Homo sapiens: one gene and its partners. The protein of the gene in region 4 interacts with the protein of the main gene of each other region in a pairwise test. Each region holds a gene or a part of one and is shown on either strand. Other genes may lie near its edges. The genes, in order: PIAS4, CEP72, PLEKHF2 and SPATA24.

What was found.
Region 1: the proteins of SPATA24 (region 4) and PIAS4 interact in binary tests that used the Homo sapiens proteins (3 or more experiments, as listed by UniProt).
Region 2: the proteins of SPATA24 (region 4) and CEP72 interact in binary tests that used the Homo sapiens proteins (3 or more experiments, as listed by UniProt).
Region 3: the proteins of SPATA24 (region 4) and PLEKHF2 interact in binary tests that used the Homo sapiens proteins (3 or more experiments, as listed by UniProt).

The regions. Positions count from the first base shown.
Region 1 is NC_000019.10:4,002,781-4,010,740, reverse strand, and holds the start of PIAS4 (E3 SUMO-protein ligase PIAS4), read right to left. Parts: upstream 3,006-7,960; 5' UTR 2,981-3,005; coding exon 2,954-2,980; intron 794-2,953; exon of another isoform or gene 327-793; coding exon of another isoform or gene 243-326; intron 1-242.
Region 2 is NC_000005.10:607,901-615,346, forward strand, and holds the start of CEP72 (centrosomal protein of 72 kDa), read left to right. Parts: upstream 1-4,439; 5' UTR 4,440-4,461; coding exon 4,462-4,543; exon of another isoform or gene 4,544-4,701; intron 4,702-6,652; exon of another isoform or gene 6,653-6,781; intron 6,782-7,446. UniProt on the Homo sapiens protein: Involved in the recruitment of key centrosomal proteins to the centrosome.
Region 3 is NC_000008.11:95,136,779-95,143,796, forward strand, and holds part of PLEKHF2 (pleckstrin homology domain-containing family F member 2), read left to right. Parts: intron 1-7,018. UniProt on the Homo sapiens protein: May play a role in early endosome fusion upstream of RAB5, hence regulating receptor trafficking and fluid-phase transport. Enhances cellular sensitivity to TNF-induced apoptosis.
Region 4 is NC_000005.10:139,401,082-139,408,974, reverse strand, and holds the start of SPATA24 (spermatogenesis-associated protein 24), read left to right. Parts: upstream 1-4,885; 5' UTR 4,886-4,914; coding exon 4,915-5,031; intron 5,032-6,226; exon of another isoform or gene 6,227-6,281; coding exon 6,282-6,347; intron 6,348-6,929; coding exon 6,930-7,060; intron 7,061-7,149; coding exon 7,150-7,220; intron 7,221-7,893. UniProt on the Homo sapiens protein: Binds DNA with high affinity but does not bind to TATA boxes. Synergises with GMNN and TBP in activation of TATA box-containing promoters and with GMNN and TBPL1 in activation of the NF1 TATA-less promoter.

The DNA of each region.
Region 1 (7,960 bases), on a different chromosome or scaffold from region 4:
GTGTAGGTGAGGAAACCGAGGCTCACAGAGGGAAGAGGCTGGCCCAGAGCCTCCCTAGTACATGCGTGGGACTGGCATCGGCCCCTCGGCCTCTGGCCTCCCAAGGGTGTTCCCGTCTGCTGCCCGGGGGACCCTCACTCACCAGCACACTGGCTATGGGGACCTGCATGGTCTGCTGGGCCTGAGAGTCAGGGATGCTTTGAAAACAAAAATGCCTCATCTCCCTTGGCCTGACTTCCTACCTTGTGCAGAAAACAAAAAGGCTTGCAGACAAGATGTTTCTTCTGGAAGTGGCCCAAAGCCTTAGCAGGGAGAGACGATGTCATGTGGACACTTCACACTGGCAGACTGGCCGAAGGCAGGTGGGCTGGGGAACCTGCTGACATCCTCGCACCCCGGGAGCCCCTGCCCCACCCAGGCTGGACAGTGGAGCCGCAGCTCCCGCTTCCCGGAGCACACCCCTTAGGTGGCCATATGTTCACGACTCAGATTTCCCAGCAGCTGCCACCTCGGAGGAGCCTGCCCTTGACACTGGAGGGAGTGCGGGGGGGACAAGCATTCAGGAAGAAGCCCCAAATGCCCCAAGATCACTTCCTGCCCTGGCTTCAAGCTGACCTGCTTGCCGTCAGAGCTGTGTTTATAAACAGTGCCAGGCCCCGGCAGCTTCCAGAGTTTCAACTCCAGGCTTGCCTGGAAGTCGCATGGGGAGACATCAGCCGAGACACAGCAGCTGCGCTGAACCTTTCCTCCAGCATAGGCCCCTCAGAGCACCGGGGGTAGCTCAGGAAGGCGCCTCTCTCCAGGAAAGCGGAGATCTGTGCGAAACGCTGTGGACTATTTCAGGGAGCTCACAGACACCCCTGCCCCAAACCCGCCTGCAGGCCTCAAGCTGAGAGTCTCAGATTTCAAAGTTCACCAACAAACCCCCAACATTCGCCCCTCCGAGCAGTCTGTGATGCACCCCAAAAGACAGAATCTGCAGCCATGAATATGACAGGCTGGGGAAGGCCCCTGTAAAGAAGGGGATGTTTCAATGACATTTAAGGTACTTGGAGAGGTAGCAACAGACTCAAGGAGAAAGAAGGTTCCCCAGGGTCCAGGCCCCCTTGAATGGAGGCTCACGGTTTAGAGAACCTGAAAGAAGGGTCAACTTGATTTAATTGGGGTGGGGGGGGGCCCAGCCACCAGAGGGTTAAGGAAAGTTCATCAGATCATATTTCAAGGCCTGGATGGTACAAAAGAGTGCAGACCCTGCCCTCAGCCAGGGTGGGGGTTGGGGTCCAGGGTCACAGCTCCAAGCCCCGAAACGGGAGGTTACATTTCAGGACTCCAGGACACTTCAAGCCCAGAGCCTGCCACTTTGGGTTTACAGAGTTCAGGCCTCCACATCTCCAGGGCGAGTCTCCACTTTTCAAAACTCTAGAGAGGAGCAGAAGTGTGCGCAGGGGTGTAGGGTTGGGAGGCGAAGAGAGGTATATGCTATAATCACAGAGCCCTGAGTGCTGTGTTTTCAGATCCCAGGGGGTAATGTGAGAGGACCGAGAAGAAGATACGTACAGGTCAGGACCGTGGGGAGGGAAGATGTGAAAGGGGATGGGGGAGGGAGAGGTCCCCTAACCTCCCCGGAAGCCGTGGCCTTGCGGGCACTTCTAAGGGTTTTAGACCCTCAGCTCTAGGTAGGCACCTACAAGAAGGTACATCCCCTGGAATGGGGATACTCTGAGCTCAATCCCAGGATGATTAAAAGTGGTTCCAAGCTAGGAGATGGTATCTATGGGACATGGGACCTGGACAGGACCCAAAGTATAATAGAGCAGCAGCAACAGTTGTTCTAAAGAGGCCAGCCTTGGACCCAGTGGGGACCCTCCAGAGATCAACAAAAGAGAATAGGCAGAAAGAGAGGGGACCTTAGAAACCAAAGTTGGGGTGCATAAAAGTTCTGGGGGCTGTGTAGGGGGAGGGTGGGTGTCTGACCTAAGAAGTAGACTCGCTCAAGAGCAGAAAATAGGAGAAGCAGCCAAGGTTTGAGGACAGTATCTGATGCTGCACAGGTGAGGTTTAGAGCCCCCTGAAGCAGAATCAGTAGCCTCAGATTCTGTCCCGAGAGGAACGAGGTAGGACCAAAGCACAGTCCAGGATTTAAGATTAAAAAAAGGAGAATAAAGAAGGTCTGTGACCAAGAAGAGTGGTCCGAACTCCATCCTATGGGGAGGGAAAGGGAGGGCCCAGCCTTCCCCCAAGCGCCCACTCCGGCGTGTGAGAGACGGTGTCGGGAAGGGGGCGGGGTTCTGGGACCAATGCAGGAGCTGAAGAGGGGCTCAAGACCGAGCCTGAACTCCAGACCCCAAGAGGACGTGCCGTGTCTTGGGGGTGGTCTCAGGGCCCTGACTCCTCCACCTGGACGGTGGCAGGACACTATCCAGGACTCGGGGGACCCTTCCGAGCAGGAGACTCGCAAACCCCAGCCTGGCCTGTTGGGCGGGGACGAGACCCAGATAGCAGTCCTGGGAGCCCTGTGGGCGGGGAGGCGCAGACACTCCCCCCAACACACCAGCCAAAAAGCAAGGACCCCGGCTCGGAACCAAGAGGGCAACGAGTAGCTCAACACGTCCCGCATCCCGGCGGGACGGTGCCTCAACCGGGAGGCGCGGCCCTGGCCTGGCGCTCAGGGACCGGGACCCTAAGGGCTCGGGCTGGGTGGGGGGACCCTGCCTGAAGCCGGGGGAGCGACCCCCGGCGCGAAGACCTGGGTGAGGCAGGAGGGCCCCGCCCCCGGCCTCCCCGCCCCCCGCCCTCACCCTGAGACCGGGGGTCGGGGTCTGGGGGCCGGGACGGCGAGCCGCGGGCCGGCCGCGCTGTGGGGCCCCGGACAGAAGGCGCAGACCTCGACCTGCGGCCCGGCCCCCGCCCTCTCGCCCACTTGCCCCGGCCGGCGCCGCCACCGCTCACTCACTTTGGCCTCCACCAGCTCCGCCGCCATCTTGGTCACCAGCGTCCCCCGCGCCGGGAGCCCCCAGCCGTCGCGTCACGTGACCGCTCACCACTCGCGGGCGGGGCCGCCGCCCGGGCCAATTAGCACCCGCGCGCGCTCCTCCCGCCGCCGGTGCGCGCTGCTGCCTCCTGCGCAGGCGCGCGCGGCCACCGCCCGGGCCTCCGGCCAATCAGGTCCGTCCTACACCAGCGCCCCCCCCCCCGCTCGCGGCGACCACGCCTACCCCGGCGGCGCCTGACTCCTTAAAGTGGTACTAGCCCTGCGCAGGTGGGGACGGGTGCTCGGTTTCCTCTAGGGAGGGAAGGCGAGAGGGGGCGGTGGCAGCGACAACAATGCAGCTAGGTGCCGTGGCTTCCTGCGCGCGGCGGCCGCCAGGTGCGTCTCCAGACTCCCGGCGGCGTCGGGCAGGGGATGGTTGCTCCGCCGCAACGGCCGCCAGTGCGTACAGTGAGGCGCCTTGCAGCGCAGCGCGGTGCAGGCTCCACGGGCCCAGACACCCCGCGCGCTGCACATCCGGGTCCTGGTGTGCAGATGGGGCGTGGGCTCGGCAACCAGCTGGCTGGGGGCGCCCGGCGGAGAAAAGCGGGACCCCTGCTCCCAAATTCCTTGGAGATCGTACAGCCCTCACCTCTTTGCAGGCGCCCCCCCCATCCTGCCTCCCCACCCATGGGAAACCTTGGATCTGCACCAGTTGGGACCTCTTCTCCAAAGCGCTCCTTGGCTTTGGAGCTAAGTGGCTTCGTGCCCGTAGAAGTGGATTTCAAACTTCAATAATCAAGTATTTTAGTGCAATTTATTTTTTATTTTTATTTTTGTAGAGACGAGGATCTCATTATGTTATCCAGGGTGGTCTCGAATGTCTGGGCTTAAATGATCCTTCTGTCTGGGCCTCCCACAGTGCTGGGATTACAGGCGCGAGTCACCACACCTGGCTAGTCCAACACTTTAAACATAAAAAAATCAGTGCAAAAGAGTCCATGATGGATGAAATACCAAATTGTTATTTATTTATTTATTTTCGAGACGGAGTTTTACTCTTGTTGCCCAGGCTGGAGTGCAATGGCGCGATCTCAGCTCACTGCAACCTCCATCTCCCGGGTTCAAGGGATTCTCCTGCCTCAGCCTCCCAAGTAGGTGGGATTACAGGCGACTGCCACCACGCCCAGCTAATTTTTTTTTTGGCCAGGCTTTTCTGCAACCCCTGACCTCAAGTGATCTGCCCGCTTCAACCTCCCAAAGTACTAGGATTACAGGCATGAGCCATCATGCCCAGCCTTTTTTTTTTTTTTTTTTGAGAGCCTTGCTGTGTTGCCCAGGCTGGAGTGCAATGGAGCGATCTCCACTCACTGCAACCTCTGCCTCCTGGGTTCAAGCGATTCCCCTGCCTCAGCCTCCCGAGTAGCTGGGATTACAGGTATGCACCACCATACCCAGCTAATTTTTTTTTTTTTAGACGGAGTCTTGCTTTGTCACCAGGCTGGAGTGCAGTGGCGCCAGGCTGGAGTGCAGTGGCGCAATTTCGGCTCAGTGCATCCTCTGCCTCCCGGGTTCAAGTGATTCTCCTGCCTCAGCCTCCCGAGTAGCTGGGACTACAGGTGGGCACCACCACGCTCAGCTGATTTTTGTATTTTTAGTAGAGATGGAGTTTCACTGTGTTGGTCAGGTTGGTCTATGAACTCCTGACCTCAGGTGATCCACCGGCCTCGGCCTCGCAAAGTGCTGGGATCATGGGTGTTAGCCACCGCACCCGGCCTGAAATACCAAAATTTTAAGTAAAGAGCCAGACGTAGGAGTGTGCGCCTGTGGTCCCAGCTACTTAGGAGGCTGAGGCAGGAGGATCGCTTGAGCCCAGGAGTTGGAGGCTGCAGTGAGCTTTGATCATGCCACTACACTCCAGCCTGGGCGACAAAATTATAGGAGGCGGTTGTTTTAGACTAAACTCTTGTGCTAGGCACCAAGACACAGGAATAAACAAAATGCAGCTAGTCACACTCAGATTCTAAGTCACAATGACGAAGCTAAGTTGTTATCTGACCTTTGGGAAAACCAGGAGGGAGCCCTATCAGCCCATTTTCTCTTTTATTTTATTTTCTCTCTTTCTTTCTCTCTCTCTCTCTCTCTCTCTCTCCCTTTCTTTCCAGGAGGAGTCTCACATTTGTCGCCTAGGCTGGAATGCAATGGCGCAATCTCGGCTCACTGCAACCTCTGCCTTCCAGGTTCAAGCGATTCTCCTGCCTCAGCCTCCTGAGTAGCTGGAATTACAGGTGCCCGCCACCACACCCGGCTAATTTTTTTGTATTTTTAGTAGAGACGGGGTTTCGCCATGTTGGCCAGACTAGTCGAGAACTACTGACCTTAGATGATCCGGCCAACCAATTTTCCAAACAGGCCAGTTTCAGCCTTCAGTGGCCAATGTCCTAAAATTCCCTCTGCTTAATTTCTTTAATCCTTACACAAAAAAACTAGCCTGGCCGGGTGTGGTGGCTCACGCCTGTAATCCCAGCACTTTGGGAGGCCAGGGCGGGTGGATCACGAGGTCAGGAGATCGAGACCACCCTGGCTAACACGGTGAAACCCCGTCTCTACTAAAAATACAAAAAATTAGCCGGGCTTGGTGGCGGGCGCCTCTAGTCCCAGCTACTTGGGAGGCTGAGGCAGGAGAATGGCATGAACACGGAAGTCGGAGCTTGCAGTGAGCCGAGATCGCGCCACTGCACTCCAGCCTAGGCGACAGAGGGAGACTCCGTCTCAAAAAAAAAAAAAAAAAAAAAAACTAGCCTGAAACAACCTGATGGTAACACTAATGAGTTAACACATTCTTTGCTGTTGGGTTTTTGTTGTTGTTGTTGCTGTTGGTTTTGAGATAGGTTTCTGTCTCCCAGGTTGTTGTGCAGTGGCTCAGTCATGGCTCACTACAGCCTCAACCGCCCGGGCTCAGGTGATCTTCCCACCTCAGCCTCCTGAGTAGCTGGGACTACAGGTGCACACCACCACGCCTGGCTAATTCTTGTATTTTTTGTCGAGATGGGGTTTTGCCAAGTTGCCCAGGCTGCTCTCAAACTTCCGAGTTCGGGGATCCTCCCAAAGTGCTGGGATTACAGACATGAGCCACCCCGCCCAGCCTGTTCTTTGATTTTGCTCTCTACAACCCCTCTCTTCCTGTAGAGCCAACCTCCTCTGCCCAACTGATTGGAACAGTTATCCTATTTTATGGAATGAAGTGTAGCAAATTGCAATGAAGCCGGTTAAGGTCCTTAGATTTGTTGAAATGTTGTCCATTGACAGCAAAACCCCAGCTCTGCCATTGCACGTATGAGTCTTACCTTCATTCCGGCCCTGCTGATTCTGCGGGGGATTGGGTTTTTTTGTTTTTGTTTTGTTTTGTTTTGTTTTAGACAGGGTCTTGCTCTGTCACCCAGGCTGGAGTGTGGTGGTGCCAATCTCGACTCACCGCAACCTCGGCCTCTCAGGTTCAACTGATTCTTGTGCTTCAGCCTCCCGAATAGCTGGGATTACAGGTGTGTGCCACCATACCTGGCTCATTTTTGTAATTTTATTTAATTTATTAATTTTCTTGAGACAGGGTCTCTCTCTGTCACTCAGGCTGGAGTGCAGTGGTGGGATCTTGGCTCACTTCAACCTCCACCTATCAGGATCAAGTGATTCTCCTGCCTCAGCCTCCCGGGCAGTGGGGACTACAGGTGCACATCATCACACCGGCTAATTTTTGGTATTTTTAGTAGAGACGAGGTTTGACCGTGTTGGCCAGGCTGGTCTCGAACTCCTGACCTTAAGGGATCTGCCAGCCTCAGCCTCCCAAAGTGCTGGGATTACAGGTGTGAGCCACCACACCTGGCCAGGTTTTGTTTTTAAGTATAATTTGTATTTGTTTTGGTGAAGATTCAGATTCACAAGAAGTTGCAAAAATAGTACAGAGAGATTTGTGCACCTTTCTCCCAGCTTTCCCCAGTGATAGTATTTTTATAACTGGCTGGGCTCCATGGCTCACACCTGTAATCCCTGCACTTTGGGAGGCCAAGGCGGGCGGGTCAACTGAGGTCAGGAGTTTGAGACCAGCCTGGCCAACATGGTGAAACTCCTGTCTCTACTAAAAATACAAAAATTAGCTGGGCATGGTGGCGGGAGCCTGTAAGCTCAGCTACTCAGGAGGCTGAGGCAGGAGAATCGCTTGACCCCAGGAGACAGAGGTTGCAATGAGCCGAGATTGTGCCATCACACTCCAGCCCAGACAACAAGAGCAACGCTCCATGTAAAACAAACAAACAAACAAAAAGCTTGAACCCAGGAGGCGGAGGTTGCAGTTAACTGAGATTGCGCCATTGCACTCCAGCCTGGGTGACAGAGCGAGACTCCATCTCAAAAAAAAAAAAAAAAAAAAGATTCAAAAAAAGTTTTACATAGCCATGTTATGTTGTCAAAACCTGGGCGTTGATGTTAGTATAATGGAATCAACTCGAGTGCAGACATTATTTCGATTGCACCCGTTTTTACATGTACCTTCCTCTGTGTGTGTTTGGTTCTATTATTTATTATTATTATTTTTTGAGACAGAGTCTCTATTGCCGAGTTTGGAGTGCAGTGGCGCGATCTCAGCTCACTACAACCTCCGCTTCCCAGGTTCAAGCAATTCTCGTGCCTCAGCCTCCTGAGTAGCTGCGATTACAGGCGGGCGCCACCACACTCAGCTAATTTTGGTATTTTTAGTAGAGACGGGGTGTCGCCATGTTGCCCAGGCTGGTCTTGAACTCCTGACCTTAAATGATCCACCTGCCTCAATCTCCCAAAAGTGCTGAGATTACAGGCATGAGACAGCGTGCTTGGCAGTTGAGAGAAATTTTGTCTCACTTGTAGATTCCTGCAACCCTTGTGGTTTGAAGGTTCTGTGTAATCATGGTACTGTGTCTGTGTTTTAAAATATGTTTTGGGCTGGGTGCCTGCTTCAAGCCT
Region 2 (7,446 bases), about 140 Mb from region 4:
GTGTGGGTGGGTGTGTACGTGAGTGTGCATGTGCACGTACACCTGTGTATGTATGCGTGTGAGGTGTGTGAACTGTGAGTGTGCTGTGGCTGTGAGCGTGTGCACACGTGAACTGAGCGTGACAGTGCGAATGTGTGTGCCGCGAATTCCACTGGCCACATGAATGCAGGCGAGGCCGCTCCGCTAGGCTGTGGATTTCCAGCATGGCCACGCTGGTTGCCTGTGTTGTCTTGTTGACACAGGATGGAGAAAGAACGATGCAGGATGCATCTCTGAGCCTGGCTCAGGCACCCAGAGGGAGCTGGGTTTGGGAGCAGCTGCTCTGCGTAGCCCTGGCTTGGATGCTGCGAGCCAGGTGGGCCTGGGGTGAGCGCTCGTCCCTGGGGTGGGTGGAGGCCCCCATTTCCCTCTCAAGTCCCCTCACTGTACATCACAGCCTCCTCCCACCCCCGCTCTGTTTAGAGAAAGCCCAGAGGCCCCTCAGGCTGAACCTCCAGCCCTCTTCTCTGACCATGTGGGTCTCCCTGTTTCCTTCCGCTGGCCTGGTCTCTGTAGGGCTCACTGAGCCTGCAGTCTGGGACCCACAGGCTTGAGGATTGAGGCTCGGGGCCTGGGAGCCTCCCTGGGATGTTCTAGAAAGCTATGGATGGGGCACCTGTCAGGGAGACAGCACACGGAGAGCCTCTCCCACCTGGGTCCTACCATAGCGGCCTGGGCCTGTGGGCTTAAAGAGCCGCTCCGGAATTTAACTGGGCCTGAGGGCTGGTGCCCTGTGAGGAACCCGGGATAGAACCTGGGGACAGAGGCCTCCATTAGTCCTTGGGAGCGGCAGGTAGCCCATGGGGTCACTGTGATCCCGGCACATTGTGGGAGCGTGCGCTGGGATGGGGAGGGGTCACTGTGAGCACGGTGCGTCGTGGGAGCGTGCGCTGGGATGGGGAGGGGTCATCGTGATGATGGCACAGCACACTCTCCTGTGGTCTAGGTTTAGGGATGCCAGTGAGACCCGCTGAAGCGTTGGGGCCCTACCCGAGGTGAGGCGTGCCCAGGTCTGGGGACTCCTGTCTTGGGGCCCCTCCCAGGAGAACCACCCCCCTCCTCTGGCAGGAAGCCCCCAAAGCTGTGGAGGAGCCCTGGGCCCACAGACAGCATCCCTGCTGCTGGGGACCCCAGGCCTGTGCGGGTGCCGCTGCCATGGGGCTGATGGGGCCCAGCCCAGCAGCCCCTGCCTTTGCTTTCCCGGCTTCTCTGCGGCTCTGTGCTTTTGCTGCCCCATTCCAGGCCGGAAGGCTCCCGCGCCTCCATGGATCTTCATGATTTGGCCAACCAGAGTGAGCACCGTGAGGAAGTGGAGACAGACACAACTTTCAGCAGCAGAAGACAGGATAATAAAGTTGGGTTTGGTTTATGATCTAACGTGACCATTAAAAGTGTTTAATAAACAACGTTAAAGACTACTTAGTGGCAGATGCATCCGGCAATGCTTAGCATAGCCTCATGACTGTCAATACGCACAGGCTTGAAAAACACCTGCAGGATACATGTGGGCATGTTAGTGTGGGTTATCTCAGCAGGGCGGCATATCGAATCTCGGTGCCCTTCTGTAGTGTCTATATTTTCTACAGTGAAGCTGGGATACTTTGGTGAGCAGAGGCATTGTTTTCAAAGTTCCCATTGGTACTTCCATCACATCCCCGTGTGGTTCTGTCCTGGACCGGCTGCCCACTGAGGTCCCACTCGCCCCTACCCTGCCCTGTCTGGCCAGCTGGGTACCTGCCCAGGAGGAAGAGGCTCAGTGTTTGGGGCCTGTGTTATGCCCTGAAAAGCCACTGCTGTTGGGTGAGGGCCCATGAGGCCTTCAGTTTGCCATCGTCATGTGCTTCTGAAGAGCCAGGATGCTGTCCACTGTTTGTCTCCTGGCGGGACAGAATTCCACTCAGTGCATATCAGGGGCAGTGATGGGGCTGGGGGTGTGAGGGCTCAGCTGTGCCCTGAACTCCTTCACAGTCTTGCAGGAGGGGTCATGGAGCCATATCTGGGTTTGCAATTTTTGGAAAGTTACGTGACGATCTGCACTCAGGAATGCTGAGTGTTCGGCAGGCCCCATGAACAGTGATCAAATGTGACGCTGTGTGTCCCACAGCCTAAGGGCTGTGGCAGAGACCAGGAGGGCCATCAGCTCCCACAGCTTTCGAGTCCACCTCAGGGCTCCTCCTTGCTGACCTCCCTGGGTTGTCAGTGGAGACAGCCACCCTCCCACAGAGCACCTGCCTGAAATGGGCCAGGCCGCCCCTGTGCCCTGGCTCTTGCTGCACATGCTGAGGTCAGCACGGAGGCGCCCTCGGGCACCAGCATGCCCTCGGGTTTGCAGCTTGTCAAATATCCCATGAAGGCAACCTGACCAAATGTGCTCTAACACCACTGGACCAATGGAACGTCTTGGGCTGAACAGATGCAGCCTTGCATCCACCGCCTGCCACCACCCTCTGTGTACACCCCCTGCACACACCTCTGCACACACCCCCCCTGCACACTGTTGCACATACCCCCTGCACACAGCCTGTGTACACTCCCTGCACAGATCCCCTGCACACAACTCCCTCACACATCCTCTGCACAAACCCTGTGTATACCCCCTGCACACACCTCTACACATACCTTCACACACCATGTATACCTCCTGCACACACCTCTGCACACACCTCCTGCACACACCTTGTGTACACTCCCTGCACACTGTTGCACACACCCCCTGCACATAGCCTCTGCACACAGCCTGTGTACACTCCCTGCACAGATCCCCTGCACACACCTCCCACACACATCCTCTGCACAAACCCTGTGTATACCTCCTGCACACACATCTACACACACCTCCTGCACACACCTTGTGTACACCCCCTGCACACTGTTGCACACACCTCCTGCACACACCTCCTGCACACACTGTTGCACACACCCCCACACATAGCCCCTACACACACCTCTGCACATACTGTTGCACACACCCCCACACATAGCTCCTGCACACACCTCCTGCACACACCTCCTGCACACACTGTTGCACACACCCCCACACATAGACCCTGCACACACCTCCTGCACACACTGTTGCACACACCCCTTGCACATACACCCTGTATATACCCCCTGCATACTCCTTATGTACAGCACTGCACATACTCCCTGCAGAGACCCTGTGTGCATCCTCTGCACACACCCCTTCTGTATACTGTCTGCACACACCCCCTACATGTACACCCTCTGCACACTCCTCCTGCATACACCCCATGTACACCTTCTGCACACACTCCCTGAACACATTCTGAGTACACCTCCTGCACACCCCGTGTACAACCTCTGCACACACCCCCTACACACTCCCCTACACACTCCCCTACACCATCCACACACACTCCCTGCACACAGCCCCTGCACACATTCCCCATGTACACCCTCTGTCTGTGTATACCCTCGTCTACTACCACCATACGTACCCCCCACCACTACCCTGCCTTGTCTATCACCCCCCAGGCTGTGACATACCAGGGATGTTGCCAACGAGCTGGTCTAATCTGGGGTGAGGGTTTCTGGGTGCCCCTAGACACCAGGAGAAAGGCGGGGAGGGGACACCCCTGGGGGTCTGGATTCACTCCACCAGGCGCTGGGCCACAGTGGTACGGTGACACAGTAGATGTCTTGAGCAGGATTAAAGTCTTCCCAATAAACAGGCTGAACTCTGTCTTCCTTGAAAGCTCTGTAGAAGGACCTCACAAGGATAAACACAGCGAGACCCTCCAGGGCGCGGTCAGCCACGAGCCACAGTGCTGGGCCTGTGACATCTCTGGAGGTTCTGGGGTGGAGAAGGACCGGCCGTGGGGAGTGACTGGCTGGGGAGAAGCTCAGCTCCCGCCCACCTCTGGGAGGCCCGGGGCTGGACGGGAGGTGCAGCAGACAAGGCTCCGGGCGGGTGCTGGGGTGTCTGGAGGGGTCCCCGCGGGGGGGTCGGGTTGGGTGGGGAGTCTAGGTGAGTCGGGGGTCCCCGGGGGCGCTGGGTTCAGGGTGGGAGCGGAGTGTGGATGGGGCAGGGTCCCCATGCCCACCACCAGCCGCGATTCCACCGCGCCTACTCGGGGTTTCCCCGGGAGGACACCGCGTGTGTCAAGGGCCGGGGCCTAGAAGGCGGCCGCGCCCAGGGAAGCCTTGACAGGGAGCTATCTGGGGCGGGGGCTGGGGTCGCGTGGCCAGTACCTGGGAGAACCGCCATTCAGGAGAACCCCCCGCCAGGCTCTTGGTTCCGCCCACGCAGTCCCGCCCCCTCCCCCAGCCACGCCCCTCGCCCCGCCGCGCAGGCCCCGCCCCGTCCCGCCAGGCTCTCGGTTCTGCCGACGCAGGTCCCGCCCCTCTCGTAGCCTCGCCCCGCCCGCCGCGCAGGCGCCGTCCGAGGGCTCCGTTTGAAACATGGCGCGGGCTGGCCCTCGGCTGGTGCTGAGCGAGGAGGCGGTTCGGGCGAAGAGCGGCTTAGGGCCTCACCGCGACCTGGGTGCGCCGGAGGGCGGGCGGGGGTGCAAGCGTGAGGTGGCGGGGGGGTGGGTGCCGAGCTTCCCGGGGCGGCGGCGGACCGTGGGCAGGCGGGACCCGTCTACGCAGGCGCCGCGGGCGTCCGGAACGGTCGCGGGCGAGCGGGGCGCGCGTGTCCAGGTGAGCGACCCACCCCCCGTGCCCAGGTGCGGCCCCTGCCCGCGTTCGGGTCCCGGCGTCCCGGCCCCTGCCTGTCTATCGGGTCACTGGTTCCGTGACTGGGGGTTACATCCGCTGAGAAGAGGGAGCCGGCCTTGCTGTCCAGGAGCGCAGCCCGCCCTCCCGCTGGGGATCACCTCCCTGGTTCTCCTGGGCCCACTCTGTGGTGATTGTTGCGCTCGGCCTTCTTGAGGATGTTGGTGGCCGGTTTCCTTCTTTTTGGCTTATTTTTGTCTGGTTTTGGCGTCAAGGTGAAGCCGAGCTCATAAACTGCTGAGAAGTGTTGCCTTCTCTTATATTTAGAAGAGGTTCTGTAGAGTGTGTGCTCATTGTTTGAATGTTTCCTGGAATTTTCCAGTGAAACCATATGGACATGTCAATTTCTGTTTTTGAAGCTTTTAAATGACAAATTCTGTATCTCTGGTTGTTAGAGAACCGTTCATATTAGTTCACCGCGAGTCTTGGCTGTGTGGGGTTTTGTGGCATTGGCTTATTTGAGCTAACTTGTGGAGTGTGTGTGTTGAGTTGTTTCTGGTGTTCTGTTGTTAGCCTGTTAATGTCTGTGTGTGGTCTGCAGGTGTTACTGGACCAACAGGTTCAGTCAGGTGCTGTGGGGGCCACAGGCCAATACACTGAGACAGTGGGGTTTGCAGCAGAGAAAGAGTTTAAGGCTGGCAGGGGCCCAGCAGGGAGGTGGAAGGAGGCCTCAATCCATCTCCCCAAGGAGATCTGAGCGGTTTTTTTTTTTTAGACGGAGTCTCACTCTGTCGTCCAGGTTGGAGTGCAGTGGCACAATCTCAGCTCACTGCAACCTCCACCTCCCAGGTTCAAGTGATTCACTCAGCCTCCTGAGTAGCTGGGATTACAAGCACGCGCCACCATGCCCGGCTAATTTTTTATATTTTTAGTAGAGACGGGGTTTCACCATGTTGGCCAGGCTGGTCTTGAACTCCTGATCTCAGGTGATCCACCTGCCTTGGCCTCCCAAAGTGCTGGGATTACAGGCATGAGCCACCTACACCCAGCCTGAGCTGGGGGTTTTAGAGGAACAGGACTGTGAGGAGCTGGAAGATTGGTGTTGTCAGTTGGTGGAGGTAAGGGCCATGGAATTATCAGGGTGTGGAAACTGCATTCTTTGGTGAATCCGCTTGCGGGGCCCTTTAGACCAGCTGGCATCAGTCCCCAGGTCCTGAAAGAATATCTCAAATGGAAAACTTAACGGTTTATAATGTCCAGGTTATTATCTGTAGAGTGGTTAAGGGGAACTGTAACCTCGTGACAAAATCCAAGTGATCCTGAGGCAGTAGGCACCACAGGGCTCTGAGGAAGCAGGTGAGAGGGCAGCTGACCTCGGGACATGCCGAGTCCTCCCTTCTTCCCTGATTAGTGCTACAAGGTTTACAGGGATATCCCTTTTCTGTTCCTGATGTTGATAATCTGTGTATTCTTTCTTTTTTAGTCTTGCTAGAGGCTTGTGAATGTTATTGATAGTTTCAAAGAACCGACTTTGGGTTTGATTTTTCTCCAGTGTTTTTCTAGTTTCAAATTTCATTGATTTCTGCTTTTTTTTATTTCCTTCTTTCTGCTTGCTTTGCATTTATTTTATACTTTTCTAAATCCTTGAGGCAAAACTGTAGATTATTGATTTGAGACTTTCCTATTTTCTATTATAAACAGTGCCACAAGTTTCCCTGTAAGCACTGCTTTAGCTGTATCCACAAATTTTGTTATGTTGTATTTTAATTTTCATCCAGTTCAGCGTATTTTAAGAATTTCCCTCGATACTTCCTGTTTGACCTGTGAATTTTTTTTTTTTTTTTTTTTTTGAGGTGGAGTCTCGCTCTGTCACCCAGGCTGGAGTGCAGTGACGCAATCTTGGCTCATTGAAAGCTCTGCCTCCTGGGTTCATGCCATTCTCCTGCCTCAGCCTCCCGAGTAGCTGGAACTCCTGACCTCATGATCCGCCCACCTCGGCCTCCCAAAGTGCTGGGATTACAGGCATGATCCACCGCGCCCGGCCTGACCTGTGGATTTTTAAGGAGTATGTTTTTAACGTTCCATGTGTGGATATTTTCCTGTTATTTTTCTGTGTGATTCCATTATGGCCAGAACATAATCTGTATGATTTTAATTCTTTTAAATTTGTCAGGGTTTGTTTTATGATCCAGCATCTGGTCTATGTTGTTGAATGTTCCAGGTGCACTTGAGTGTGTGTGTATTCTGTTGTTGAGTGGAGTGTTATGTAAATACATAAATATCAATTAGATCCTGTTGGTTGGTGATATTGTTCAGTTCTTCTGTATCCTTGCTGATTTTCTGTCTAGTGACTCTATTAATGACTGAGAGAGGGGTCTGGAACCCTTAACTGTAATTGTGGATTTGTCTGTTTTTTTTTTCACTTTGTATGTTTTGAAGCTCTGTTTGTTGAATTACATAGCTAGGATTTTTATACCTTCTTAGTGGACTGACCCTTTTAGTATATGTAGTCTTCCTCTTTTTTTTTTTTTTTTTTGAGACAGAGTTTCCTTCTTGTCCCCCAGGCTGGAGTGCAGTGGCACGATCTTGGGTCACTGCAACCTCTGCCTCCCGGGTTCACATGATTCCTCTGCTTCAGCTTCCCGAGTAGCTGGGATTACAGGCGCCTGCCATCACGCCTGCCTAATTTTTGTATTTTTAGTAGAGACGGGGTTTCACCATGTTGGCCAG
Region 3 (7,018 bases), on a different chromosome or scaffold from region 4:
TGCTTAATATTTAAAAGCAATGTATGTGTTGACTTAACTGAATAAAAAATACTTCATGGATACACTTTCACAGTGCTGTTTTAAGTTGGAAAACCTCTCTAGGTTAAGGTGTTTTGTAATTCTATAATGCCTATAGAATTCGGGGTTTATTTCCTGCCCCCACCCAAGATAACTTTCTCCCCTGTCAAACTGTAAACCACAAACTAATGTGCTCAATTTAGGGAGGTCCTGAGAAGAGAATAAAAGGCATTCAAATAGTTGCTGTGAATGCACTGGAAAGAAAGCAAGTTGCATGTAGGATGGACTGGAACAAATAAACCTTGTCCTGACTCAGCTCCTTGCTGGCTTGTGACTCTTGAACAAGCCGCTTCACTTCTGTAAGCTTCACTGGACTCATTTGTGAAATGGGCACAGAAATATTTGCCTCAGTGTTAGCGTGAGGGTCACCCAAGATTCGATGTTTGTGGAAGGGCCTGGAATACGATAGTAGCTATTATTTTAACAAATGAACAGAGTGGCAGTGAATTATATAGAATCATAGAATTTAAAAATTTTTAAAGGGAAGCAGCCTGTAGGAATACCTAGTTCAGTTTTCAGCCTTGGCTGCACATTAAAATCTCCTGAAGAGCTACTTAAAAAGAATATTGCCTGGATCCCACCCCAGGACAAATAAATCAGAATTACTGGGTTTGGGGACAGAACAAAGGTAATTTTGCCTCTTTGTTAAAACATCCCCGATTTTAGTGTTCAGTCAGGTGGAGAACCTTTGATTTAACTCAATTTCCCATCTCCTTTCTTATGCTTTTCATTTTGTAGTTGAGTAAAATGCAGAGGGGTTAGCTGCCAGCCAGATTCCTATCAGTCAGGCTAGAAAGGATGTATTAAATATTTGCAGCTGAGGAAAGTGAAGTGCATAGAGGTTAAGTAAGGGTTACATTCATTTCTGGCCAGAATGGCCACATTTGGAACTACACTTCACTAACTCCGGTGACCCCCACTGCTACTCTACAACAGCAGCCTGCATGTTGTGACCATGTTACTTGTCATCATTCAGAACCACTCTACCTCAGGTCTTAAACCCTGTGGCCAGATGGCGATGCAAGGGTCTGTTTTCTCTTTCTCTTTTCTGTCATAACTGGTTAAGCAGCTTTTTGTCCTTATTGTCACCTCCAGTCCCTCCTAGGCCATTAGTTGTCTTCCCTCTTTTCAACCTTGAACTCTGTAGTTCATGTTCTAACCATGAACTCACTAGACCACATAGTCCCTCCTCTCCTTGACCTTTGCTGGGTGTAACTGGTCAGTTTTCTACCTTTGTCCCTGCCCTACACTCTCCCCCAAAGTCACGCTTTTGGTGATCATTACATACTTGTTTTCTACCTGCTTTATACTAGTTACTTTCTAATCCTTTTCTTATCCCCAAGTTGACTTATTTTCTCTGTTGCTTTTTCACTCCAGTCAGGTTGCTAACCCCAGTCTCGAAACATGTTGAGCAGATGACCTTACTTCCTTCTAAAATGATTAAGATTTTATGATGTGAATTTTCTATTTTCTTCTTTGCACCAACTTCTTCATCTTCCCCCCCCCCCCGCCCCTTTTTCAGAAGTGGAACTATTTTTAATTCTTTGTACTTGTTTCATTTAAACAACAGTTGGGGAAAAAGAAAGATTTTTGTGTTCTTTGCTCACATTTTTATTACTTGTACATATAACTGTATTTTACTTTTTATACTTATATTTTTCTACACATTCTTCTTTGTATTTTCTTCCCAAACTAAAAGGCTTTGTCTATGAGAGAATGTGTTCATTATAAGATAATTAGGCGTATCAAAATATTATTAGTCTAGTGCTTAGAGATAACCACTACTGACTTTTTGGTGCATATCAGCCACTTTTAAATAACAAGTAGGCTTATACTATATGTGCTATTTAGAAACTTTTATTTAATAAAATGCTTTAACAATATTTCACATTAAATATTGTGTTTTCTAAAAAACTGCCTAAAAATTAATGGATGTGCCATAATTTATTTAGTCTCCTATTGTTAAATATTTAGGTTGTTTCCAGCTTTTCTATATTATAGACAAAGCTACAGTGAACTTCATGTGAACAACTTTGTACACTTTTAATTTTTGTATGTATTATTGGAAATAGAATTGTTGTATAAACTTTCTAAAGCATTTCTATTGCCAAAATGGCATTTAGAAAAGTTGTTCCAGTGTATATACAGTATTGTCAAGAATATAAGGGTCCATTTTTACCACATCTTAGGTGAGTAATATATGAATATCATTTTAATTTTTATTTGATTGGGACTGAGTGTCATTTTTTAAATTTACTGGTCATTTTCATTTTTTTAAAATTGACATTTGTTTCTTATTTTTCTGTTGGGATATTTTCCTCTTTTCTTGTGGATTTACAGGAGCCCTTTGCATATTACAAATGTTGGCCGGGTGCGGTGGCTCACACCTGTAATCCCAGCCCTTTGTGAGGCCAAGATGGGCAGGTCAGATTGCTCGAGTCCAGGAGTTTGAGACCAGCCTGGGCAACATGGCAAAACCCCGTCTCTACAAAATACACAAAAATTAGTTGGGCAGGGTGGCATGCCTATAGTCCCAACTACTCAGGAGGCTGAGGTGGGAGGATCGCTTGAGACTGGGAGGTAGAGGTTGCAGTGAGTTGAGATTGTGCCACTGCACTCCAGCCTGGGTGACAAAGCAAGACCCTGTCCTGTCAATCAATCAATAAATGTTGACCCTTTGCCATATTACTTTAATGTTCTTCCCCCAATTATGAAGTTTTAAAAGTTTAGGTAGTAAATTTTTTCTTTTATGATGGCTTTTTGTGATACATTTAACTATTCCTCAGCTAGAAATTTAGGTTTTATTTTTCACTATTAGAGTTAATGCCAGAGGGAAAACTTTTTATGTGCCACACCCCCTCCACCCCCTTTCTCCAGTTTATTTCTCCAGGTTAAATTTTTGTGGGTAAAAATTTCAGATATTTTATTGTTACACATTGCCATTAGTCCTTGATTTTTTTTTTTTTTTCCCATGTGTCCCACTGCTGATTGTGACCTTTTGGCAGGTTATTTAGTCTCTGAGAGTTGTGAAACATATGAGAGCAGGTTGAAAAGGTGCTTTGTGCTCCTTTGTGTCCCGTTCTTTTTTCCCTTAAATTTTCCTCCTGCTTTCTAAACTAGGGGTTCCCCAAAGTTTAGTCCTCTGCTCTCGTTTTTCTTCCAGCATCAGCCAGCATCTCTAGGTGGGTGACTACCAAATCTCTCTGTCCTGGAGCTCCCTGCCCATCCTGGCATCTCTGTCCCGCAGATGTGTTTGTCTTGTGGATGCCCTGGAGGACTTCAAGATAAACATGTCCCAAACTGATTTCTTCTCTCTCCTAAAACAAAGCTAGCATCTGCCCAGTGGCTTACCCTTAAGCCTTTGAAGTCATCTTACAGTCCTTTTTCATCCATGTGTTCAGTTATTTCCTAAATCCTATCTGCTATGCCTCAGTTATCTGCCAATTATTGTGGTTCAGGCTTTTCTTACCTTTCATTTAGAGATTGTTGTAATCCTCATATGACTGGTTTCTTTGTCTTCAGTCTTGCTTCTTCATATTCTCTTCAGTCCATCCCGTGTACTGCTTCTGTGTCTGATTAATATTTTCCTATTTAAAAACCTTTGTCTTCCCATGGCCTGTGTAATAAAGTGTAAACTCTTCTATCTGATGGTTGCTTTCTTTTGCAGTTTGTCTCATCCCTATCTTACCAGACTTCTTATCACTATGCCTTCTCCTGACCTTGCCTCCTCTGGCCTAGGCTCCATTATTTCCTCTCTGGGGGAATAGTCTTGTGTACCATCATCCATCCCCAAACCCCAGATAGTTTGAGCTACTACTTTTGCTTTAAGGCCCAGCTTGAATTTCTGGTCCTTACAAGACCTGTTCCTAGATGTTCTACCTGGTCAAAATTACATCCCACCTCAACTCCTTGGCCCTGGGACCTTTACCACTGTTTTTTTTGTTTTGTTTTGGTTTGTTTTAAGTTAAAAAGTTTTTGGCTTGTTTTTCCTCTGCTGTTTTAGACTTTGCACAGATTTAAGTTAATTGTATACCTCAGTTTATAGCACATTATAGGGATACCAAACCCCTTCCTTGTTTTGTTTTTTTCCTTCTTTGTCAGTTACTCCCATGATAATCTTTCCTATAGAAACACAACTGAATTATATATACTTGTCTATATAAATATGAGAATATAGCTGTCTTTCTCTTCCTCAGAGGTTTTCAGTTTTGAGTATCTTCTGTCCTTTAATACTGCTTTGCACAGAGCAAGTGATAATAAATGTTTGACTACTTGAAATTCATTAAAAATTAATGGTTTTATTTGCTTTTGAATTAATCACTTAGACTAAAACCCTGGAGATTAATTTTAGCTTTACTCTTCTATATCCAGTCTGCAATTCTGAATCTGACCTATCCTTTATTTTCCTATTGTAAGCTTCAGACTCTTCATCAACTTTCCCCTCTATTTTTGCAGTTACTTTTCAACTGGATCCTGTTTTCAGTCTCTTCCTTCTCAATTTATCTTTCGTTGTTTCTATAGTTATCTAAGAAAAATCCAGATCAGATCAGGCCACTCCTTCCAAAAGTTTCAGAAGGAAGTCTTAGATATTAACAAGATTTTGTGTTATTTTTCCCCCCTTTTCCCACTAAATAACTCCCCTACAGCCTCTGCTGCAGCTGTACAGTGTAACTTTTTTTTTTCTTTTGAGAGGGAGTCTTGCTCTGTGGTTCAGGCTGGAGTGCAGTGGCACGATCTTGGCTCACTGCAACCTCTGCCTTCTGGTTTCAAGCAACTCTCTTGCCTCAGCCTCCCAAGTAGCTGGGACTACAGGTGCATGCCACCACACTTGACTAATTTTTGTGTTTTGTTTTTTTTTTTTTTTTGGTAGAGACGGGGTTTCACTGTTGGCCAGGCTGGTATCGAACTCCTGACCTCAAGTGATCTGGTTGCCTCGGCCTTCTAAAATGTTGGGGTTACAGGCTTGAGCCACTGCACCTTGCCCAGTGTGACTTTTTATGTGCGTTTTTACTTGCAAAGCTTTGTGCCTTTATTTAGCCATTTTTTTGCCTTCTTAAATTCCGCTCATTCTTCACAACCTGTTTTCAGTGTTCAAATGCTGTATTCTCTGTGCCATGCCCTCACTCTTTGCTTTTTTTGCTTCCTTACTACTTTGCTAATGTTTTTAGTATAGTACTTATCTCCTTGTGTTTTGTATTAACCTTGTGGCGTATATCTTATTTCCTAGTGTCTGCTTTGTTCTTTTTTTCCACCAAACATAAACCTTGAATGTAGTGAGCAGGTTGTAACTGTTTTGAATGATACTAAAGAAAATTGGTCAGGGATGTCACAGGATAACTAATTCCTCAGTAGTGTTTTAGTTGAGCTTTACCAGGTTTATTTTTCAGATATTATTTAATTAATTAATTTTTTTCTTGAGACAGGTTCTGGCTCTGTGGTCCAGGCTGCAGTGCAGTGGTGCAGTCATGATTCACTGCAGCGTTGGCCCCCCAGGCTCAAGCTGTCCTCCCGCCTCAGCCTCCCGAGTAGCTGGGACCACAAGTGCACACCGCCACACCTGGCTAATTTATGTAATTTTGGTAGAAATGGGGTTTCACCATGTTGTCCAGGCTGGTCTTGAACTCCTGGTCTCAAGGGATCTGCCTGCCACGGCCTCCCAAAGTGCTGGATTACAGGCTTGTGCCATTATGCCCAAGCTATTTTTTAGATATTATCCAATGCTTTCTTTACAGCTGTCAGCACTGTACAGCTGCCCCTGTACAAATACTTTTAGAAATGATGTGAGTTTTTGAATCTGAGTTTTGTGATGATGAAAATATGCACGTAATCATCATTTTTTATTTACTAACTAAACAGCTGTGCTTTTTGGAGAAAGAAATCATTTATATATATTACCATGAGATTGAAATTTTTTAAAAAACAGGATCTGCCTTGCTCAATACTTAGAATTTTTAATTACATACTGTACTTAAATGGGCCACAACATTTGCTTGTAAATTTAAAATCTGTGGGTCCAGTGAAGCAGTTGATGGGTAGGGTGTGGTTCCTGTTTTCTGTGAAAATTAATATAGATGTTAAAAATGAAGTCTTTGATTTTCATCAAACTCAAGATTGGGAGCTGCTGCCACTTCTAACTGCTGATTGTATTCAGTTCAGTGCACATTGGCACATTGATGCCATTTATGCAAGCATTTTTTTTTAGGTGCTGTTGCAAATACAAAGTTGGAGGAAATAATCTTTTTTTTTTTTTTTCTTTTTTTTGAGATGGAGTCTCGCTCTGTCGCCCAGGCTGGAGTGCAGTGGCACTATCTCGGCTCACTGCAAGCTCCGCCTCCTGGGTTCGCGCCATTCTCCTGCCTCAGCCTCCCAAGTAGCTGGGACTCCAGGCGCCCGCTACCGTGCCCGGCTAATTTTTTGTATTTTCAGTAGAGACAGGCTTTCACCATGTTAGCCAGGATGGTTTCGATCTCCTGACCTTGTGATCCGCCCGCCTCGGCCTCCCAAAGTGCTGGGATTACAGGCGTGGGACACCGCGCCCGGCCTGGAAATAATCTTTTTTTAAGGAACCTCCACATCTGTTGGGAATGAGCAAGTACACACATTTTTATGAAACAAATAGACTATAAGTGCTATAAAGTGGTGCAAATAAAATGGTGTGAGGATTCACCTGGCCACAGGATATACCCAGCCACAATATTTGGCTGTGAGGCTATCGAACTGAGTGTGTCTTGAAGAATTGGTGAGATTTCAGTAAATAGAGAAGAACAAAGGAGGGAGGACATGCCGAGCTTAGAGGTAGGGAAAGAAGCCCAGAGCATATTCTGGTAATAGCTAGTAGTCTGGTTTGACTATAACAGAGAATGTAGAGAAAGAGGTAAAACTGGAAAGATAGATTGCAGCAGGTTAGGACTTGACTGTGAAGGGCTTTGAATACCAAGTT
Region 4 (7,893 bases):
TCAAAAACCCAGGAAACTTTGTGTGGTAGACTTAATTTGGCATCCCCTAATATTTATGCCTTTGTGTAGTCCCTTTTCTAATCGGGGCTGGCCTTTGACCTTTAACCAACAGAATGTGGCAAAACTGGCAGCTTCCATTTTTGTACTTGGAGGGAAGCCAGCTACCATGTAAATTCAACTACCTGAGACCACTACACTAACCAAAGGAGAAGCCATGCAGAAGAGAACCCAGCAACCAAGCTGACAGCAAGAACTGAGGACCCAAACACATAATTCAAGTTGAGCCATTTGTGTTACCCCAGATGATGGGCAGAGCAGAAATGTGCTGCCCCACCAAGTCCTGCTCAGTCTGCAGAATTGTGAGCAAATAATAAAATGATTGCAGCCATTTTTTTGCAGGTGCAGTGGCTCATGCCTGTAATCCCAACACTTTAGGATGCTGAGCCAGGCAGATGGCTTGAGCCCAGGAGTTCAAGACCAGCCTGGGCAACGTGATGAAACCCTGTCTCTACCGAAAAATATAAAAATTAGCTGCACACCTACAGTTCCAGCTACTAGGAAGGTTAAGGTGGGAGGATTGCTTGAGGCCAGGAGGCGGAGGTTGCAGTGAGCTGGGATCGCGCCACTGCGCTCCAGCCTGGGCGACAGTGTAAGACTCTGTCTTTAAAAAAAAAAAAAAAAAGTTGCTGTTTGAAGCCATTACATTTTATGGTGGTTTTTAGCAATAGACAGCCAAAACACCTTTTCCTTGTCCCCATATTCCCTTATTCCCTCTCTCTGTTAAGTTCCATCAATTTTACCTCCAGAATATCCTAAACCTACTCTCATCTCTGACACTATCTGACTCTCAAACTACCATCCACTTTCACTGCAGTAGCCTTCTCGGTTAAAGTGGTCTCTGTGCACTTACACAGCCCCACTCCAATCTGTATACCTCACTGCAACCAAAGAGATCTTTTCCAAGCATAAATTGGATCACGTCATCCTCTTGCTTAAAATATTTCAGTAGCTTTCTTTTGTCCCTAAAATAAAAATCACCAAAATCCTTAGCATGGCCTACCTTGCTTAGCAAGGCTCTGCCAAGTTCTTGGTCTCTACCCACTACCCAAGCCCCCTCTTGCCCTATAATCTTTTTCTTTTATGCCATGCTACCCTTTAATTACTACACTCTACCAGCCCCTTTTGCCCCAGGGACTTTGTATACACAAAGTATACACTGCTTCCTCTTTCTGGTATCCCTACCTACTCATCTGCCCCTACCCTCTTTGCTAAGTGCTTCCTAGTTACCTTAATAGGCTTCAGCTCAAACATCACTTCCTCACAGAAGCTTTCCCTTGCACAGAATCTTAGCCCCACCTGGCTAAGTTTCTCTTTAGATTTATCTGGTTGTTTGATTATTGTCTGACTTTTCCCACTAGACTAAGTTCCTGACTGGTTTTACCTGAAATGAACCTTGAAGGGAGTGGTGCCCCATCTGTCATAAGGATTTGCTCTAGAAGTGCAGCCCAAATTCTTTGACACTACTCCCATTGAAAGGTGGTGGGGTAGGGGGAGGAATCTGTGTGTCCTCCTCTGGAATCTAGACTCTGACTCCTTGACCAATAGAATACAGCAAAAATGACACTATGCCAGGTATCAGGCCCAGGCCTTAAGAAACTGGCATCTTCCATTTTCTGTCACTTTGAATGATTATCTTTAACCCAGTCTTCATGCTATCAGAAAGTCCAGGCAGCCTATGGAGAGGAACCAAGACCTTTGGTCCTCAGCCCTAGCAGAGCTCCCAGCTGACAGCACCAACTTGCCAGTCACGTGAGTGAGCCATGTTGGAACTGGAACTTCTAACTCCCCGTTGAACCATCCCAGTTCACACTGCATGGAGCAGAGATAAGCTTTCACCATTGAGCCTTGCCAAATTCCAGATTCATGAACAAAATGATTTTTTTCAATGACTTAAAAAAATTGGGGGGTGGTTTATTATGCACCAATAGATAACCAGAACATCAGCCAAAATGACAAGCCTGTGCAGAAAGGCAACCCTTCCCTGGCAGGATCACAGAGCTGTTTGTGATGTCATGTCATCCTGAGTCTCACTGAGTCCTGGTTGACCAGGAGCCCAAAGTGCCTTTCAACATATAGAGGAGTCTGTGGCAGTGCCCAACCAGGGTGACCACCCCTCATGTCCATGCCAGGAAGCAGGTGCAGACCTGGATCCAGGGTTCTCTCTTGTTCATAAGCTTCCACCCCCAGGTGGCTGCTGGAGCCTACTGCTCTCCAGGGTTTTGCCCCAAGTACGCAGAGAGCAGCCTGTTCCAGCTGGTGAAGGTGGATGTTGGATATCAAGGGACATCAAGCAGTGCCTCATGAAAGATCCTAGGGAGGAAGTGCAGTTCTTGGGGAAGGCTCAGGAATCACTGCCCCAGAAGAATGTGCAGCTTTGTGAAGGGTGATTCAGGTGAACATTCACATTTGGTACACCAAGTTCTGAGAGGGTCTGTGCTGAGGCACACAACCTACACAGTGCCCTCTAGGCACACACTTTCCAGTACAGTAGCCAGTAGCCACACATGGCCATTTAAACTAAAAATTTAAAAATTTTAAAGAGCCATGATTAAGGTGATCTTCAGAAAATAATAAAAAATTTAAAGCAATTTCTCAGTCACATGAGCTACGTTTCAACTGCTGAAGAGCCACATGTGGCTAGTGGCTATTGAATAGTGCAGCTGTAGAACATTTTCATCACTAGAAGTTCTATTGAACTGTATTGTTCTAGGCCCTTTAACAGAGGTCGGCCGGGCACAGTGGCTCACGCCTATAATCCCAGCACTGTGGGAGGCTAAGGTTGGCCGATCACCTGAGGTCAGGAGTTCGAGACCAGCCTAGCCAACATGGTGAAGCCCCGTCTCTACAAAAATACAAAAAAATCACCTGGGTATGATAGCAGCTGCCTGTAATCCCAGCTACTGGGGAGGCTGAGTTGGGAGAATCGCTCAAACCTGGGAGGCAGAGGTTGCAGTGAGCCAAGATTGCTCCACTGCACTCCAGCCTGGGCGACAGAGCAAGACTCCATCTCAAAAAAAAAAGAAAAGAAAAAAAGAAAAAAAAAAGAGAACATGGTGAAACCCTATCTCTACTAAAAATACAAAAAATTAGCCGGGCATGGTGGCGGGCGCCTGTAGTCCCAGCTGTTCGGGAAGCTGAAGCAGGAGAATGGTGTGAACCCCGGTTGGGGCAGAGCTTGCAGTGAGCCAAGATCGCACCACTGCACTCCACCCTGGGCATCAGAGCAAGACTCCGTCTCAAAAAAAAAAAAAAAAAAAAAGAGAGAGAGGTCAGCAGAGATGGCCTTGTCTCCAAGTCCATGAAAATAAACGCAAGAAACAAAACAAGGGCTCCCGCTGAGAGAACCACAGGGATGGCCAAGTTTGTCAGGCCCCCCGGGGGGTTTTGGGGAGCGGCTTGAATGACTTACCCTGAGCTTTCTGCCTCCTTTCATAGTCACTGGTAACTTTTTTTCCAAACTCCTTGTTAGTATAGTCATTTCCTACTTGGGGGTATCAAATTCCATAACTTCCACCCATGACGTGCAACACAAATGCAGCACAACATCCTGGTTAAGAACATGAACTCCAGGCCCAGCGCGGTGGCTCATGCCTGTAATCCCAGCACTTTGGGAGGCCGAGGCAGGCGGATCACCTGAGGTCAGGAGTTCGAGACCAGCCTGGCCAACATGGTGAAACCCCGTATCTACTAAAAATAAGAAAATTAGCCAGGCGTGGTGGCGGGCGCCTGTAATCCCAGCTACTTGGGAGGCTGAGGCAGAAGAATCCCTTAAACCCGGAAGGTGAAGTTTGCAGTGAGCCGAGATCACGTCCCTGCACTCCAGCCTGGGCGACAGAGCGAGACTACATCTCAAAAAACAAACAAACAAAAACACGGACCCTGGAACCAAACTGCCCATAGCAGAACTCCGTTCCACAACTTACTAGAGTGACCTTGGGCAAGTTATTCATTCTCATTCTCATAGAGCCTAGGTAAAAAGGGGCTGATAGGAGTTCCATGAGGGTCACATGAAATAATATAAACATAACGGTGCCACGAAATAGTGAACACAATATATATTCGCTCTGATGTTCTCCAAACCTAATCTTATTTGGGTTTCCAAGAAAAAAAAAAAAGCCTTCAATAGAGACTTGGTGAGTGTGCGTAATCACCGTATCCTTCCCTGACTTCATTTTACTAAACTCTCCTCCTTCAAGCCCTCTTCAGTCCTCCTAATCTCTTCAGGGTCCTCCTCCTCGGGTGGTGGCACATGACTCTAGTGCAGACTCTAGTGCCCAGAGCCTGGTATCAGAGTATGAAGACTTTGATCTCAGGTGTAGCCATTCTCATTTTTTATCTTCGTCTATCTTCCGTGCTTAGGCTTAGGACCCCTAAGTACTAAGTGTGTTCCAGGAGGCTGGAATCTCATACAATGGAGGAAATTTGGAGATTAGGATAAAGATTTGGAGAAAGAGGCATGAGAAGCTAAAGATGCAGGAGTTGCCTATGCTGGCTCTTGCTTCGTGGTCATGCAGTTTAACAGGCCCTGGGTGAAGGCTGAGGGCTGCTGTTTTGAGTGTTGCCTGCTCGCAGGCAAGGAAAGTACAAGCCGGGCCCTGCCGGCTTCTCAGGACTGCGTGAGAAACAGAAGACGCAATAAAAGCGCAATTTCCTGTAAACTTAAATGCCTTAAGGGTTGTCAGCAGTTTCCCCGCTCCAGGCGGCTCCTTTAAGAGGCGGCCCCTCGCCCCGCTAACATAGGAAGTCCCCGCCCCCCGTTGCCAGGGTGCTCTGTGGCGTCGCATTCTCATTGGTGGGCGACGGCGAGGATCACCCCCGAGGCAGCCATTTCCAACTAGCTGGCGGGGGCGGAAGATGGCGACGCCCCTCGGGTGGTCGAAGGCGGGGTCAGGATCTGTGTGTCTCGCTTTAGATCAACTGCGGGACGTGATTGAGTCTCAGGAGGAACTAATCCACCAGCTGAGGAACGTGGTATGCAGCCAGAGGAGTTTGGGGAGAGGCGGGGCCGGATGCCTCACTGGTGGGGGCGGGGCCAGAACCTGTTCCGATGCGGGGGCCGTGGCTAGAACGCATGGCCCATGGCGTCATCAGGAGGAGGCCGGGCTCAGTCGGTAGGGGTGGAGCCAAAAAGGGGCGGACCTTCCTGAACCAGGGAATTTTAACTAAAATCAAGCCATATTCTCCCTTCCGTTTGCCTGGTTGCTGCAAGAGCTGGTAGAGAGTCCCTGAGCCTCAGTTTCCCCATTTTCAGTGGAGATGACGTCACTGAGTTCCCATGGCCCTCCTGTGCAGGCAGAGAAACTGTCATCCCTTCTATTATGGACACCATTCCCGAGAGTCAAAGGCAGTGCCGTGTTGAATGCAGTAAGCGCAGATTTGGCCCTTGCCAGCGCTAACTTAGGGGCCTCCAAGAACTTTACATGCCTTAGCTTTTGCCTTCTCAATCAAACCCCAGCTAATGGGTGCAAAGCATTGCAGTCACAGATTACCTGGGTAGGCATGATAGAATCCTGGCCATCTGGAGTTCATGGTTTTTCTGGTTTTGTTTTCCTGTCTTGATAAGAAGGTTAGGATGTATCTCCATCTCAGAAATAAAACTGGCTTCACATCTACTTCTCATTCTAAGTTGTTCTTAGACAATTTCTTCCCTTCTGGGAAGTTGAATGTGGGGGAAAGGGGAGAGAGACCTGTCCTATTTGCTACCCTAATGCTCTCATTCAACAAAATATATGGAGCTCTAGGCACTGAATTGCCTTTGATTCCCTGAAGGTACCCAGGTCTTCCTCTTGGCAGCTGACCTTGGCATGTGTGTCCCCACCATCCAGAGTGCTTTTCTCTCTATCCCTCTTCTGGCCCACCCTATATAGCAGTCAGATCTCAGGTCTAACATCCCCTTCTCCGGAAGTGATTCTGACCCTTCCCCAGGCTGGGTTGGGGCCTCCTCTGAGCCCCAGATCCCCTTATGTCTCCCCATCAAGGCACACAACATGTTAGAAGTGCTAACTGTGGACTGCCTCCTCCATGAGACTGGCTGCTCCTTGAGGGCAGCACTTAGAGCTGAGTCTCAGTTTATCTGTGGAACTGAATTCTCCCTTCCCAAGGCCTCAGTCTCATCCTAGGTACCACGAGCATCATCCTGTTATCCGCTTTTGGTCCTGGTCCCTAGAGGGCGCCCCTTCTACTCCAGCCCCAGGCCCTCCCTCAGCCAGGCTCTGTTGCAGATGGTTCTCCAGGACGAAAATTTTGTCAGTAAAGAAGAGTTCCAGGCAGTGGAGAAGAAGCTGGTGGTAAGTAATGGCCTCTGCGGTCTCCTAATCTTCCCCCGTTTCCCAGGATCCCTGTGGTTAGGCAGGCTCATTAAGTATTAGCCTCTGATGGGTGCAGTGGCTCACAACTGTAGTCCCAGCTCTTTGGGAGGCCAAGGCGGGCAAATCACTTGAGGTCAGGAGTTCGAGACCAGCCTGGCCAACATGGTGAAACCCTGTCTCTACTAAAAATACAAAAAAATATATATATACATATATATATATTAGCCAAGCATGCGTGGTGGCAGGCGCCTGTAATCCCAGCTACTTGGGAGGCTGAGACAGGAGAATTGGCTTGAACCCAGGAGGTGGAGGTTGCACTGAGCTGAGATCATGCCACTGCACTCCAGCCTGTGCAACAGAGTGAGACTCTGTCTAAAAAAAAAAAGAAAAAAGAAAAAAGAAAGGTCGGCCTCTGAGAACCTCCAGCCCCTGTAGCAAGGTGGCCAGAATCTCCCTGTGCTCTGGCTTCTGTGTGTCCCTCTGAGAAGGGGGGCTGGTTAAGGGAGTCTAGGAGACCCAAGGCGGCCTAGGGTAATGAGGTGACTGCTGCTGCCCCTGCAGGAAGAGAAAGCTGCCCATGCCAAAACCAAGGTCCTCCTGGCCAAGGAAGAGGAGAAGTTACAGTTTGCCCTCGGAGAGGTAGAGGTGCTATCCAAGCAGCTGGAGAAAGAGAAGCTGGCCTTTGAAAAAGCGTGAGTGGGCCTCAGTACGGGGTGTGGGGTTTGGGGGATGCATCTGCTTGCTAGCCTGCCCACCCTCCCATCTTATCTTCCCCACCCAGGCTCTCCAGTGTCAAGAGCAAAGTCCTTCAGGAGTCCAGCAAGAAGGACCAGCTCATCACCAAGTGCAATGGTAGGCGGGAGGCCCGTGCTCTCCACCACGGTTATATAAACGGGCTCTTTCCTAACCACCCAGTGCCTGTGTCAAAGGCAGGGTTTCACTCTAACACCTGTCCCCAGCTGAGGATACAGGCAGGCCCGGGTGGGCCACACCTTCGAAAAGGCCTTAAGGGACCAGGCAGGCCACGGAAATGAGGGAAGCAGTCGGTGTACTATATTCTTCACCGCCATAAAGGAATGGGCTTGCTCCCATTTTTCCTGAAACATACAACCTTCTTAGTCCACCTTTTGTTTTCCCACTTTTGATGGGTTACTCCTAACTGATACAAGAGGAACACAGGGCAAGCACTGTCCTATTTGGGACCTGATCCTTAGTCTCAGGGTCAGGACTCAATAGGGAAGGATGCATGTGGTGACAGGGGGCTAGGATTGCCAGATCTTTAAAATGGAAACTAAGAGTTATTTTTATTTTTCTAAGACTGGGTGTCACTATGCTGCCCAGGCTGGTCTCAAATGCCTGGGCTCAAGTGATTCACCCACCTCAGCCTCTCAAGTAGCTGGGACTACAGGTGTGAGCCACCATGCCCAGTGAAACCAAGTTGTTTTATTTTTTTTGAGATGGAGTCTTGCTCTGTTGCCTAGGTTGGAGTGCGGTGGCACACGGCTCACTGCAACCTCCATCTCCT